2 linked regions of the Homo sapiens genome follow. The protein of the gene in region 1 interacts with the protein of each later gene in a pairwise test. Each region holds a gene or a part of one and is shown in the gene's direction. Other genes may lie near its edges.

The links.
Region 2: the proteins of RNF146 (region 1) and NDUFAF3 interact in binary tests that used the Homo sapiens proteins (3 or more experiments, as listed by UniProt).

Annotation. Positions count from the first base shown.
Region 1 is NC_000006.12:127,262,869-127,269,886, forward strand, and holds the start of RNF146 (E3 ubiquitin-protein ligase RNF146), read left to right. Parts: upstream 1-3,995; 5' UTR 3,996-4,057; exon of another isoform or gene 4,058-4,227; intron 4,228-7,018. UniProt on the Homo sapiens protein: E3 ubiquitin-protein ligase that specifically binds poly-ADP-ribosylated (PARsylated) proteins and mediates their ubiquitination and subsequent degradation. May regulate many important biological processes, such as cell survival and DNA damage response.
Region 2 is NC_000003.12:49,017,570-49,023,996, forward strand, and holds NDUFAF3 (NADH dehydrogenase [ubiquinone] 1 alpha subcomplex assembly factor 3 isoform a precursor), read left to right. Parts: upstream 1-4,551; 5' UTR 4,552-4,575; coding exon 4,576-4,652; intron 4,653-4,776; coding exon 4,777-4,969; intron 4,970-5,132; coding exon 5,133-5,199; intron 5,200-5,306; coding exon 5,307-5,407; intron 5,408-5,486; coding exon 5,487-5,603; 3' UTR 5,604-5,926; downstream 5,927-6,427. Other genes in the region: DALRD3 (DALR anticodon-binding domain-containing protein 3), read right to left, coding at 44-300, 454-749, 831-995. UniProt on the Homo sapiens protein: Essential factor for the assembly of mitochondrial NADH:ubiquinone oxidoreductase complex (complex I).

The DNA of each region.
Region 1 (7,018 bases):
TATACTGTTTGATTACTGTAAGTAGAACATCAAATGATAGGACAGAAACCAACCTATGTATCAGCTCTGGAAACAAAGTTTTTAATTAAAATAAACAAAGTTTGCTTTCCAAAGCTTCCTCTTGGTTTGATTTCCATTCATCTGCTAGCTATAATGACTGGTACATTCCTGAATCTGGTTTGTTCTGTTTCCAGGCATATGAGAAAGTTGTGTCCACAGCTATCAGATGGTTGCCGGCATGTGAAAAGGGAAGAAATTTAACTTAGAGTTGGTAAGCAAAATAGCCCCAGACAAGCATTCTTATTTGGTCTCAGGACCCTTTGACAGTGCTAATTTATAGAAGACCCCAAAAAACTTTTATGAGCTAATCAATATTTACCAAATTAAAAGTTGAAATTGAGAATGGTTTACAATATATACTAATTCATTTAAAAATGACTCATTGTATTAACATACTTTATTAAAAAAAAAAACACTACATTTTCCAAAACAAAGCTAACTGAATGAAAGAAGAGTGCAGTTTTACTTTTTTTTTTTTTTTACATCGTTTTAATGACTGGTTTAATAGATATAGTCAAATTCTCATATCTGCTTCTATAATCAATCTATTGCTACATCACATACCATGTAGCTTCTGGAAAACTCCACTGTACATTTGAGAGTGCAAGTAAACAAAGCAACTAGAGTCTTAGTATTATTATAAGAACAATTTTCCCTCAGACACTCTGCAAGAGTCAAAGGACCCCTATGGGTCACTAGATAACACTTGGAACACCGCCGCCCTAAACTAGCCACGAGTGGTTTCAACGTACATTCTATTGTAACACATCATTTTCTCATGCATTTTCATGGATGTCTTCAGATATTAAGTAAACAAAAAAAAATGCTTTGATCCTTAAGTAAAACAAATAACATTGGACAATTTTTGAGTGTTGGAAGGATAAATGGAGAAGAGTAGGTGCCTGGAGATGTGTGGTATTCAGCAAAGTATTTTGTAAGTTGTGGGAAATAGACAATAAGCTATAAGCAAACAGGCAACTGGGTAATTCCTAGCAGTCAGCTGCAACTTCTTTACCTTTGATTCAATGAAGCAAAATGGAATCCCAGTGACAGTAACATTATTACAGAAATACATTGAAACTGTTAGGCTCTGATTTATTTAAGCAAATAATTTGAAGTTTTGGTACTTAAAATTACTGGAAACCAGTTACTCTTAATTACTGGAAACCAGCACTCTGACAATGTTGAGAGGTGCTGTCCTGTGTTATTCAAAGATATAAACTTCTATCTTTCTTTCAAGTGGCTGATGGAGGTAGGGTGTATAGTATTCCATGCATTCAATTCTGCTTTTCATATGCAACTACTGAAAAATGAGAAGTTCACTTTTATTCATATATATATACAAATGGGGATATATTCATATATATATATAAATGGAGATATATATATATTCATATATATATATAAATGGGGATATATATACACACTCACATACACAAATGTGGTTTTTGGGGTTTTTTTGAGACGGAGTCTTGCTCTGTTGCAGTGCAGGCTGGAGTGCAGTGACACGATCTCGGGCAACTTCCGCCTCCCAGGTTCAAGCGATTCTCCTGCCTCAGCCTCCCGAGTAGCTGGGATTACAGGCGCGTGCCACCATGCCCAGCTAATTTTTTTGTGTTTTTAGTAGAGACAGGGTTTCACTGTGTTAGCCACGGTGGTCTTGATCTACTGACCTCGTGATCCGCCCACTTCGGCCTCCTAAAGTCCTGGGATTACAGGCGTGAGCTACTGCCCGGCCATGTGTGTATTCATTCATTCATTCATTCATTTACTCATTCATGTAACACATATTTACAGAGAACCTCTTTAAGTGTGTCAGGCACTATTCCTGGCAGTTGAGATACAAAACAGAACACACATTCCTGGCCTCCTGTGTCTTGCGTCCTAATGTGATGAGAAATATGATGAAGATTAGTAAGTAAAATAAATTATCCATTACACTGTGATAAGTATTAAAAAGTAAAGGAGGAAATATGAAATATTGGGAATGGAAACATCATGACTTAAAATATGCTGACAAGTAGAGGGACTGACTGAAGAGTTGGACATCTGAGCACATATGGAGGGAGCATGATGGGGAAGAGTGTTCTAAGCAGAGGAAACCACAACTGCAAAGACTATGAGGTTGGCAGCTTGTGGAGAGCTTTCTGGGAATACAAAGCTGGGTAAACAGTCTGTGGGGTCAAAGAGGTAATGAGGGGAGGATTTTAAAGCCATCGTTAGGACTTTGGTTTTTACTTGTGTTGGGAAGCCACAGGAGACTTTGAGCAAAGGAGTGGTACGATCTCACTTCTTTTTAAGTAGATTTATTTAGGATTCTGTATTAAGGATAGAGTCAAAAGACTAGTTCCTGGTCTACCGTAACACTATAATCCAAACAAGAGATGATGCAGATTGTAGCGGAGGTGGTAAGTAGTTGGATATACTTTGAAGGAAGAGCCAACAGGTTATATGCCAAATGCATATAAGACATAAAAGAGAGGAGTTAAAGGTGGGTTTGAACAAGGAAAGATGCAACCATTTACTGAAATACAAAGACCTTGGGTATGAGTGAGAAGGGGTTGAACTAGCTGACATCTTACAGTCTGTGCCTGGATTCAAATCTCAGCTGTGTGTGTCTCTCTCTCTGTAAAATGGGAATAATAATAGTGCCTACCTCATAGTTTATTATGAGAATTAAGTGGGTATATATGAATAAAGCACTTAGAGCAACACCTGGCACATTGTTAGTTAATATTAGCATTACCTCTTCAAGCTGGAATCTTCGAGTACATATCAAATTTTAGCTATTCTCTGTTCATGGGCTGTGTAGGATAGAGGGACAAAACTGAGTGGCTAATAAGAAGATAAAGATAGAAAACTAAGCTTAAAGTTAAAGGATATACACTTCAATATTTCTACATGTATGGAACAGTATTGCATACACGCGCAAGCATCACTGAACTAGATGCACCCTTCAAGAGATTGGGTTACATATTGATATATATGAATGAGAACCCTGAAATAAACTGATTTCAGAGGAATAACAGAAAACATATACATTTCTATACCTATAAGGACACTGAAAACTTCCAATCCTGAATCAAACAGTTAATGAAATCCCAAAATGCAACACTAATGCAAATGAGAAGACGCTGTCATAGAATGTTGAAATACATACTCTTCTAAAGATAAAAGGTCTGCTCTTCCACCCTCTTCATTTTCCTACAAATTAGGAAAATTTAATCAGTTCTGAAAAAGGAAATGTACATGCTAAAATGGTGAATTACTGCTAGAGTTCTGATGTTTAAAACCACAGGCTTGCGATCAAAATAACCTCTTTAATTTTAGATTATCATGCAGATTAATTTCTTCAGTTTCTCAGGCACTATTCTGTTTTTTTTAAAAAAAGGGTGGGGTTTCAAAAGAAAACTAATACTCATTTTTTCCCCGATTAAATTGCTCAACCATTAAAAAGGAGAACAAATTGGAAAGTCCTACAGTACTCTCTCCCCTCCGTCCCCCCCCTCCCCATTTTTTTTCTTGAAAGGGAACAAGCAGTACTTTTGCTAAGGGATCTTTAAGCCGAAACTCAGCTAGGCGCCCCAGAGCTTCCTCAGGATAGCAAAGCTGGATTTTTGAGCAGCACCACCTGCTGGTCCTACACACGTTTTACTTCCTCCACCCCAAATCTCTTTCTGTTGGAACTGCACTCTTTCAGAGCCTCTGGGCCCTAATACAAAGCAAGCACACTCTAAAGAAGCCAGAAGAATGCAAGCAGCGAAGTCGCCGCTCCCCACAGGCAAGAGAGTACCGGCAGACAGCGGCGCGAGACAGGGGCAGAACGATGAGGCGCCGGAGTTAGCTCGCCGGTGCGGGTGCGGGTGCGCGGCGCGTCGCGGCCCCTCCTCCGCGACGCGCCGGGTGGTCACGTGACGGCCGCGCGCGTTCCCGGCAGCTGCGGGCTCCGAGGCCAGAGAGAAAAGACTGCGAGGTGGCCGCAGCTGTGGCCGGAGAGGTGGGAGTCGGAGCGAGGCCCTCTCGGGGGAGCAGGGTGAACGCCGGCCACTCTAGGATCCTCACTCGGGGAGAGGAGGCATAGCTCGCGGTGTCACCTCCAGCCGCAACGTACTCCGGGTCGGCCTTGCGCTCGGGGCCTGAGAGGGGCGGCGGCGGGGTCAGGGGCCGGTACGTAGATGGACGCCCTTGGGCTGGCGCGGCCCCGGCTGTCCGCGCAGAGGCGGGATGGGACAGTTCAGCCCTTTCCGCCACCCCCGCCTTGGCTGCTGGGGCAGGCAAGACGACCGTGACAGCCCCTGCGCTGCCCGAGGGCGCCGCAGCCCCTGCCCTGGGTGACGGCCGGAGCTGGTCTCGGTCCGGGTGCGAGGGGCGGAGCAGCGGCCATTACTGCGCAGCCTCTTCCGCCTGAGCCCGCTTCGCTGCCTCGGGTGGCAGGCGGGTCCCTCTCCTCCCCTCTGGGCCGTGGTTTTAGGCCTTTACCCGGGGACCTTCTGGCCTCGAGGTGTAGGGGCGGCGATGGTTTTTCGGCGGTAGCCTGCTCCATGTTTTCCCGTGTGGGGTCAGACAGTTTGGGCCTTGGGTCAGATCGAAGCCAGGGCGTACAGTCTGCATTTTTGCCTTTTCCCGGAGTGTCTCTGGCTGCTGCTTTCTCTTCTCTCGCTCTTCCTCCTTTTTTTTCTCCTGCTCAGTGTCTCGGTCTTGCCTAAAACGAAGAGAGCAATCCCTGCACCTTGTCCTAGTGAAGCCCAGCGCTGCATATTCTTAGTTGTTTTTGACGGCTGTTGAAGCATCGGAACAATTAAGAGATCTCAGAATATCCCTTGAGCCTCCAAACCCTCTGCATCTTAAAAGCTGAGGCTGTTGCTTTGTTCTGATTGTTGGGTGGGGAGTTCTCTTCCTACCCTCCATCCCGTCTGAAGGAGTGTGGGTCTTCCATTGTTGTCGCTATTTATTTTGCTAAGGCTTCTAAAGAATGTAAAATTGTTTTAAGAGTGGAGACGGAACCGTCCTCTCCACAGGTAAAACCTACAGGACTGTAAGTTTACACACACATCCTGGCAACTAGAATCTTTTCTCGTTAATCATATTGGTATATGTTTTAATTTATTTTCTCTAAGTGCCATTTTAGTGAGCACTTATTTCTCAAGTTTTGAACATTTTGTTTAATATTTTTGTAATATCGAAACAGTGTAGAACTGAGGAGAGAAGAAAGCCCAAAGATGATAGGGTACGCTTTGTTCTTTGTATGATTGGCATTTCAGGTAGTGGGCACATCCCCCCCACCTCGTGTGTGTACTTTTCAAATGGGATGTGAACGTATAATATTGGCATTCAATCCAGTATATAATTATAGAATTTGGAAGACTTAGGACATTTTAGTCAGTGAATCTATATTTAGACTTTTCAAAGACATGGCACGTAAGGACACGTGGAGAAAATGTCCCACACAGATAACAGGATTTGTGATTTTGGCTTTGCTGTTTTATGATTAGCAAATATTGTTTGTATAGAGTGTCTGGGTGCCCTAAAAACACATGAAAATAGGTCAACTAAATCTCGTTTTAAAGAGAAAACCGGAAGAGTGAACACCACTCTAAAAATAGATTTTGGATGTGTTTGTTTTGGTGCCTTGTATATCTTAAAGTGGAGGATGTTGTTCAGCCCAATCTTTCATTTAGAATTTATGTCTCAAATGAGCCAGTGTATCATGTGGGCAGACTGGAAATACATTTAAATATTTTTTTTCTTCGCTGGTTGTTCAGAACTTGGTAGAATTATAATTATCAGGAAAACTCTCTCCAAATAGCTGGTCTTTTAGACAAGAGAAGAAAAAAGAAATAACTTCTTTTAAAAGGAGATGTCAACTTACAAAGTGTTTTGTTTCAGTCTCCACCAACCTAACTTGTCAGAGGAAAGGAACAGACTTTTTTTTTTAAAGGATCCAAAACGATATTTTGAGTCAAAAGAAGAAAAGGATATTAAATCTTTTGTTTTCACAATATCGATCTTTTTAAAGAATATTATTTTATATGTTAACCATATACTACCAGGAAACATCTAACAGCACTGACAGTTGGGAATTCGAATGCGTATTTTTCTCCCGTGTTAGTAATAGAAGGTACTGAGCCTTTTCCATTCTCTTGGTTGCCTTGTGCCTGAGGAATCTGAATTTGTGAAACAACATCTTTGTGGATATAGAAACTAATTTATGTAACACTTGGCTACAACCACCTGTGCTTACTTACGGACTATCTTTAGTTTTCATGGCGTGTTACCTTTTGGGTTAATTCAAATCCAAAATGTTGTTAACGGACTGCTAATTAAAGCATTTAGAACTTAGAATTACAGAATTATAGAGTAGGATGAGATAACAAAAGACTGGGGGTTATGACTTGACCAAGGTCACACAGATAATTTGCCAAAGAGCTTTCTTATTTATGAAATGGTTGCTGGCTAAGAAACATCTGTGTGTGATATGATTAAAAGACAATATTCGTTCACTTTTACATCTCATGTTTTGAAATAAAATGCAAAGCTCACTTTTTTGTTGTTTTGAGAAAAATTAAAGGGTTTAATGGGCTAGTATAAAGATTGTGAAGGCAGTAAGTAGACTGCCACATAGTAACGTCTTAAAGGGAAATAATTCTTTAAAGTATCAGACCCCATTTAGTTGAAATGAGTTTTGTCTGAAGTTTCCAAGTATGACCTATGCTTTTTCTTAGCTAATTTTTAGCAGGAGATGATGAGGGCTAAAAATTGAGACATTAGGGCATTTAGTTACATCTCTCAATTTGTGACTGGTTTATAAAAAATACTAAGATGTGTCTGCTAACTCACACCTGATTTATCTACTCCTTTTATGTATATATAATTTTTTTTGAGTTGTGTACCAAAAGTTGGAACATTTCAAGTATTTTTTCTTTCTGTCACTGAGTGATTTCATGTAGAACATTTACTG
Region 2 (6,427 bases), on another chromosome or scaffold:
CCCCCTCCTGCCTTTTCTGGCCCTGCTAGGCTTCAGGTCCTACCCAGACAGTTGTCCAGGTTGGGGTCATAGCCAGCTGTGCGGCCCTGTTCTTCCACCAGCTCCTTCAGACACAGTCTGCCTAGGATGCCAGGGGACAGTGTCCTCCCGTCATTAGCAGAGGTAAGTTCTTCAAGGGCGTGGCTCCTCAGGGTGTGGGAGGAAGCTCTCTCCGAGGCAGCGGGCCAGTCCACCCGCAGTTGCTGCAGGAAGGTCAGCATGTGCGGATCCCGCACAGCTGGCACTAGGCGCACGCACACCCTGCGAAGGGAGGGCGGCCGCCTCAGTCTGAGCACCTGGTCCAGCTCGCCACGACTTCCCACCTCCAGCCGCAGTCCCCACGGGCGGCGCCGCTCGCTTTCTAGGTACCCGGCAGTCCCACTTTCTCCATTCCGGCCCCGCGGCCCCGCTCACCCGTGAGCGCGCAGGGCTCGCGCCAGGTGATCGGCCACGAGCACCGTACGCAGCTGGCTCAAGCGGAGTGCGCAGGGGGAGCTGCGCAGTGCTGGGCAGTGTAGTAAGACGCGCTGGCCCAGCGAGGCAGGCGAGGCGGGCGTGGCATAGGCGGCCACGGCGCTGAGGACGCGCTCGAAGACGGCGGACCGCTGCAGTTGGAGAGACAGACCCGCGGGGGTCGGCGCGCAGCGCAGCACCGGGGCCACACCGGGGCCCTGCAGGCAGGCGAGGGCATGGAGCAAATGCTCCGGAACCTGCGGGAGAACGGGCGTGTAAAAGAGCCACGGCACGGGGCCCATCTCCCGGCCGCACGGCCCCGCCCGGCTCACGCCCACCTGGCCGTCATCGAAGCGCGCCTGCAGCGCGCGGTGCGGTGCCAGAAAGTCTCGGGAACGCAGGTGGCGGGTGCGCGTCTCCTTGATCCACACCGGACCGCCTGGCCCCAGGGCCGCGTTGAGGGCCCCCAGCGTCTCCCCGACCCCAAGGCGCCTGGTCGCCATGGTGACCGGAAGGAGTAAGCGGAACCGGAAAAAAATTTAGGGAGGTGGAACTTCCGGAAAGGACCGACTAGCTGGGGCGGGGATGCGGCGGTGGTCCCCGTAAGTGGACAGGTGCGCCAGTGGTAGCCCTGTCGGCTGCTTTCGACCTACCGCCCCCAGCGCCCCTTCCGCGTGGTCCACCTGCACAGCCGGGCCCCGGATCTGAAATCTCGGGGCCCTCCCTGGGCCTAGGGTTCTTTCGCTGTGACCCAGGCCTTAACCAGGAAAAGGATCCTCGCGACCCGGTGGGCGCTTAGACCGGGTACCGTCTCTTCTCATCGAAGTCTCACATGTTTGTTTTAATAACATTTCATTTCTCCCATTTTACACATGATGAATATTCGTCACTGGAATAAGGCAGTATAACATTAAGGCCACTTTCACGACCTACTTAAAATATCTCGTTTTAAAAAGAATAGTGTTCCGCGGTTTCAGGTTATTTGCAAGCATTTTCTCGTTTGAGATATGGGTGTTTTTTTGTTTGTTTGAGACGGAGTCTTGCTCTTGTCTCCCAGGCTGGAGTGCAGTGGCACGATCTCGGCTCACTGCAGCCTCCACCTCCCGGATTCACAGGATTCTCCTCCTCAGCCTCCCGAGTAGCTGGGATTACGGGCGCCCGCCACCACGCCCGGCTAATTTTTGTATTTTTAGTAGAGACGGGGTTTCGCCATGTTGGCCAGGCTGGTCTCGAACTCCTGACCTCGTGACCTGCCCGCCTCGGCCTCCGAAAGTGCTGGGATTACAGGCATCAGCCACTGCACCCAGCCCGGGTGGTCTTTATGCCCAATAAATAAGCACTCTGATACAGTTGGCGGTTTTCTTCTCTTGATACCTGAGAAATCACAACCATCATGATGGCTTCCAGAATTACCAGACTTTTTTTTTTTTTTTTTGAGACGGAGTTTCGCTCCTGTTGCCCAGGCTGGAGTACAGTGGTGTGATCTTGGCTCACCGCAACCTCCCCCTCCCGGGTTCAAGTGATTATCCTGCCTCAGTCTCCCAAGTAGCTGGGATTACAGGCACGCGCCACCACGCCCGGCTACTTTTGTATTTTTAATAGAGACGGGGTTTCTCCATGTTTGTCAAGCCTCGAACTCCCGACCTCAGGTGATCCGCCTGCCTCGGCCTCCCAAAGTGCTGGGATTACAGGCGTGAGCCACCGCGCCCGGCTCAGAATGACCAGCTTTTAATGTGACTCCTTTAACCTGGTGTGCTTTAACAACGATCCTTAAAGCTTCCTGTTTTAGGCAACAGCCATTTACGGGCCAACCAAATAATGCGACCATAATAGAAAATAGGCCTCAGTTGGAGTATCTTGCTCCTCTACCAATAGGAAAGGTCTTTTTCTTTCTCCCACAAAGGTTCCCAAATGTCTTCATTTCACTGTAACTTACTCACCCCCCACCCCACCCCCATTCCTTTTAATAGAGAAGCTAACTCAGTAGAGAGAGTTGGGAAATCCGGAGAGCAGGGAAACCCAGGGGCAGGAAAAGCTTGGCAAGGCCCCTTTCTGGGCCAGGGCTGAGGCCCTGCTGGGAGGCGCCGAAAGAGCACTGGGCGGACACGACATTCCCGATGGCTTCTCGGGTGCCCACTCAACGGGAGTGATCGTGTCATTCCAAAGCGCTTTCCATTCTGAAGGTGCATGACCTGGAGACAACTGCTTAGCAGGGTTGGGAACCCTCAGTCAAACTGAGGACTTCAGATACTCTCATCCACGAAGACGGTTGGGGTGGTTTTTCCCCAGGAAGTAAGAGGGCTATCTTTAGCGAGATGCGGGCTGAGGCAGCCCTGGGGGAGTCACTACCATTGCAGCCCTACCCAGAGGTCCTGGGTCCACCCTCCCTCGCCAATCCTCCCCAGGGTTCCAGAGATGGCCACCAGCCTCGGCTCTCCCACGTCTACACCCATCACCTCCAGCCTGAGGGCGCAACTGAGAGGAACTGAGACCCAAGCAGCTCAGTAAAGTATGTCTGGGGGTCAGGGGCACCCCATCTGGGCCAGGGCGCTGCTCAGGCAGGAGAGCAGGGGACGAAATCCAAGCGCAGCTGGAATGCTCTGGAGACAACAGCTGCTTTTGGGATTCCGTTGCCCGCTGTCCAGCCGTTGGCGGGGGGCGGGGGAGCTCCTGCCCCCAGGTCACTCGCCCTGGGGCCACATCAGAACCCGCCCATCCCCAGTCCCAGGAGGAAGACCCGGGAGTAGGTTGTGAAACGGAGTCTAGAGGGAACAAGACGCTCACCTGGGCCACAGAACAATAGAAGGGGAGGTGGGGGCCTCCCCTGGGACCGGGTCCCGATCCGGATTAGATCCGTGGGGCAGGATTAGCCCTGTTGGTCCCACGAAGCCTGGGCCACTGGTGCGGTGACGGTGGTGGGGCGGGCTTCGGAATCCGTCAGGAGGGAAGCGCGCCCGTGGGGCCGGAGAGGAAGTAAACCCGCGCGTCCACCTCGGGGACACCCCCGCGCTCGGTGGCCTTTGTCCGGTGACGCTGCCAGCGCCCGGAGCACCAGGGGCCGAAGGGGTCCACAGAGCAGCCGCGGGACCCCCGGAAACCCATTGCGACCGGCCCCAGGAGACCCACCACCAGGCTCCCACTGTGCCGAGCTTCCCGCTCGCCCGGCCCCGCGGGTAGCGAAAGCGACAATGTTCCCCTGAGGCCACGACAGAGCCGGCGTGCCGAGATGCCCAAACCCCGCGCGGGGGCCAGCGACTCTCGCGCCAGTAGGCCCTTGACTTGGATCAAGACGGGGGACGGGGGACTCCCAGGACGCGAGCAGAGTGAACGAGGACAAGGTGATGCTCCACGCGCTTCTACTTCAAGTCTGGTCCGGTTCGGCCTGGTCTGGGCCAGCCGAACAGCCACCCAAACACTATCACAGCTTGCCCTTCCGCTTGCTCTGGCTGCCTGCAGACTTGGAGCCATTTTAAGGAGAAACCACCTGGCCACGCCCCCTAGAGAACCCGAGAAGCCAATCCACGCTCGGCCACGCCCCTCTCCGCGCGCTGCGGAGAGGCCAACGGTCGCGCGGGTGACGGTTAGGGCGGGGCGTGCTTCCGCGTCTAGCCGGAGAAACTTGAGCCGGCTGCCCCGCCCACGGTGCCCGAAGCCCCAAAGGCTGGAATTAGGGGCTAGAAGTCTGGCACCCACCGCCTGGCCAGGTGTTCGGGACGCGACCAGGTGGGCGGTCGCCCCGCCCCGGGAGCGCGGCTTAATAGCTGAGAGCCCGGGGGCCAGGCCGCGGCTGCGGCCCAGGCAACGCCCTGAGGGTGGCCACGCTGCCAGGTGTTCCACTCCCCCGGGACTATGGGCAAGGGCCCGGGGCGGGGAGGGCGGCAGGTGCTGACACTGGAGCTGCGCCGGAGGTCGGGGAACTCGGCCTCCTAAGACTGAGGACACTCGCCTGCTGGGCCGGTCGAGCTGTGCGGTGCCCTCCGGGACGCAGGGGGCGCTGCAGCCACGCTGGGTCAGGCTCCGCAGGGCCCTCCCAACCCGGGGACTAACGGCGCCGGTGACGACTTCGCCGCGCGTTGGTCAGCCATGGCCACCGCTCTCGCGCTACGTAGCTTGTACCGAGCGCGACCCTCGCTGCGCTGTCCGCCCGTTGAGCTTCCCTGGTGAGCTTGGACCCCGCGCCCTCGACCATCCAGCCCCCTAGGGCCGGCGACTGCCAGCCCAGCACCTTCCGGCCTCTCGGGCTGCCCGGCCCGGCCCCGCGCCCCTGACCCTTTCCCTCCGCAGGGCCCCGCGGCGAGGGCATCGGCTCTCGCCGGCGGATGACGAGCTGTATCAGCGGACGCGCATCTCTCTGCTGCAACGCGAGGCCGCTCAGGCAATGTACATCGACAGCTACAACAGCCGCGGCTTCATGATAAACGGAAACCGCGTGCTCGGCCCCTGCGCTCTGCTCCCGCACTCGGTGGTGCAGTGGAACGTGAGTCCTGGCCCGCAGTGTGGAAACTGAGGCCCAGAGTCACAGGCCCTCACCCTGCTTGGTCCCTGCAAACTTGGCTTTCCTCTGTCTCCTCCTGCAGTGGATGGAGATGGGGAGAGGCTGCGTGGATTTGTCGTATTAAATGTGCCTCCTCCCTGCACAGGTGGGATCCCACCAGGACATCACCGAAGACAGCTTTTCCCTCTTCTGGTTGCTGGAGCCCCGGATAGGTACTGGGGAAGGGGAGGGAGAACAGAGGTGTTCTGGGCCCCAGAAGGCGACCCCCACTGCAGCCTCTCAACAGAACTGTAGACTAGCCACACCCACCCTTCCCTAGAGATCGTGGTGGTGGGGACTGGAGACCGGACCGAGAGGCTGCAGTCCCAGGTGCTTCAAGCCATGAGGCAGCGGGGCATTGCTGTGGAAGTGCAGGACACGGTGAGTCCCGGGACTGGGGCATGCTGCGGGGAGCACAGGCCTGGCGCTAGACAGGCTGATGCTGGCCTTTTCTTTGCAGCCCAATGCCTGTGCCACCTTCAACTTCCTGTGTCATGAAGGCCGAGTAACTGGAGCTGCTCTCATCCCTCCACCAGGAGGGACTTCACTTACATCTTTGGGCCAAGCTGCTCAATGAACCGCCAGGAACTGACCTGCTGACTGCACTCTGCCAGGCTTCCCAATGCTTTCACTCTTATCTACCCTTTGGCACTTATCTTGCTTATCAACATAATAATTTATACACTTCTCCCATTTTGTATCAGGTGTGTTGCTGGCCAGGAGCTGATGGCTCACTGGGCTCTTGGAGGGGAATGTGAAGAAACCAAGGAGTCACTTTTTCATCTAGATTACTTAGGATTCCTTGACTTTTCAGAAGTCGGGAAGCAGTATGTTTGCCTGTTGTAGACCTACTTGCTCACATGCAGATTTGAGAGGACCTCAACGGCTTTTCTCACAAAATCGCTGATTGTTTTTCTTTTTTTGAGATGGAGTCTCGCTGTCGCCCGGGCTGCAGTGCAGTGGCGTGATCTTGGCCCACTACAACCTCCACCTCCTGGATTCAAGCGATTCTCGTGCCTCAGCCTCCTGAGTAGCTGGAATTAGAGGCCCCTACCACTACACTGGGCTTTTTTTTTTTTTTTTTTTTCTGGAGATGAGTCTTGCTCTTTCGCCAGGGTGGAGTGCAGTGGCGCAGTCTCAGCTCACTGCAACCTCCGCCTCCTGGGTTTCAGTGATTCTCCTGCCTCAGCCTCCTGAGTAGCTGGGACTAGAGGTATGCATCACCACGCCCAGCTAATTTTTGTATTTTTAGTAGAGAAAGGGTTCACCATGTTGGCCAGGATGGTCTCGAACTCCTGATCTCAAGTGATCCACCTGCCTCCCAAAGTGCTGGGATTACAGACGTGAGCCAATGTGCCTGGCCGAGAGAGATTCAAGTTAGGGAATATATATGTGTGTTGA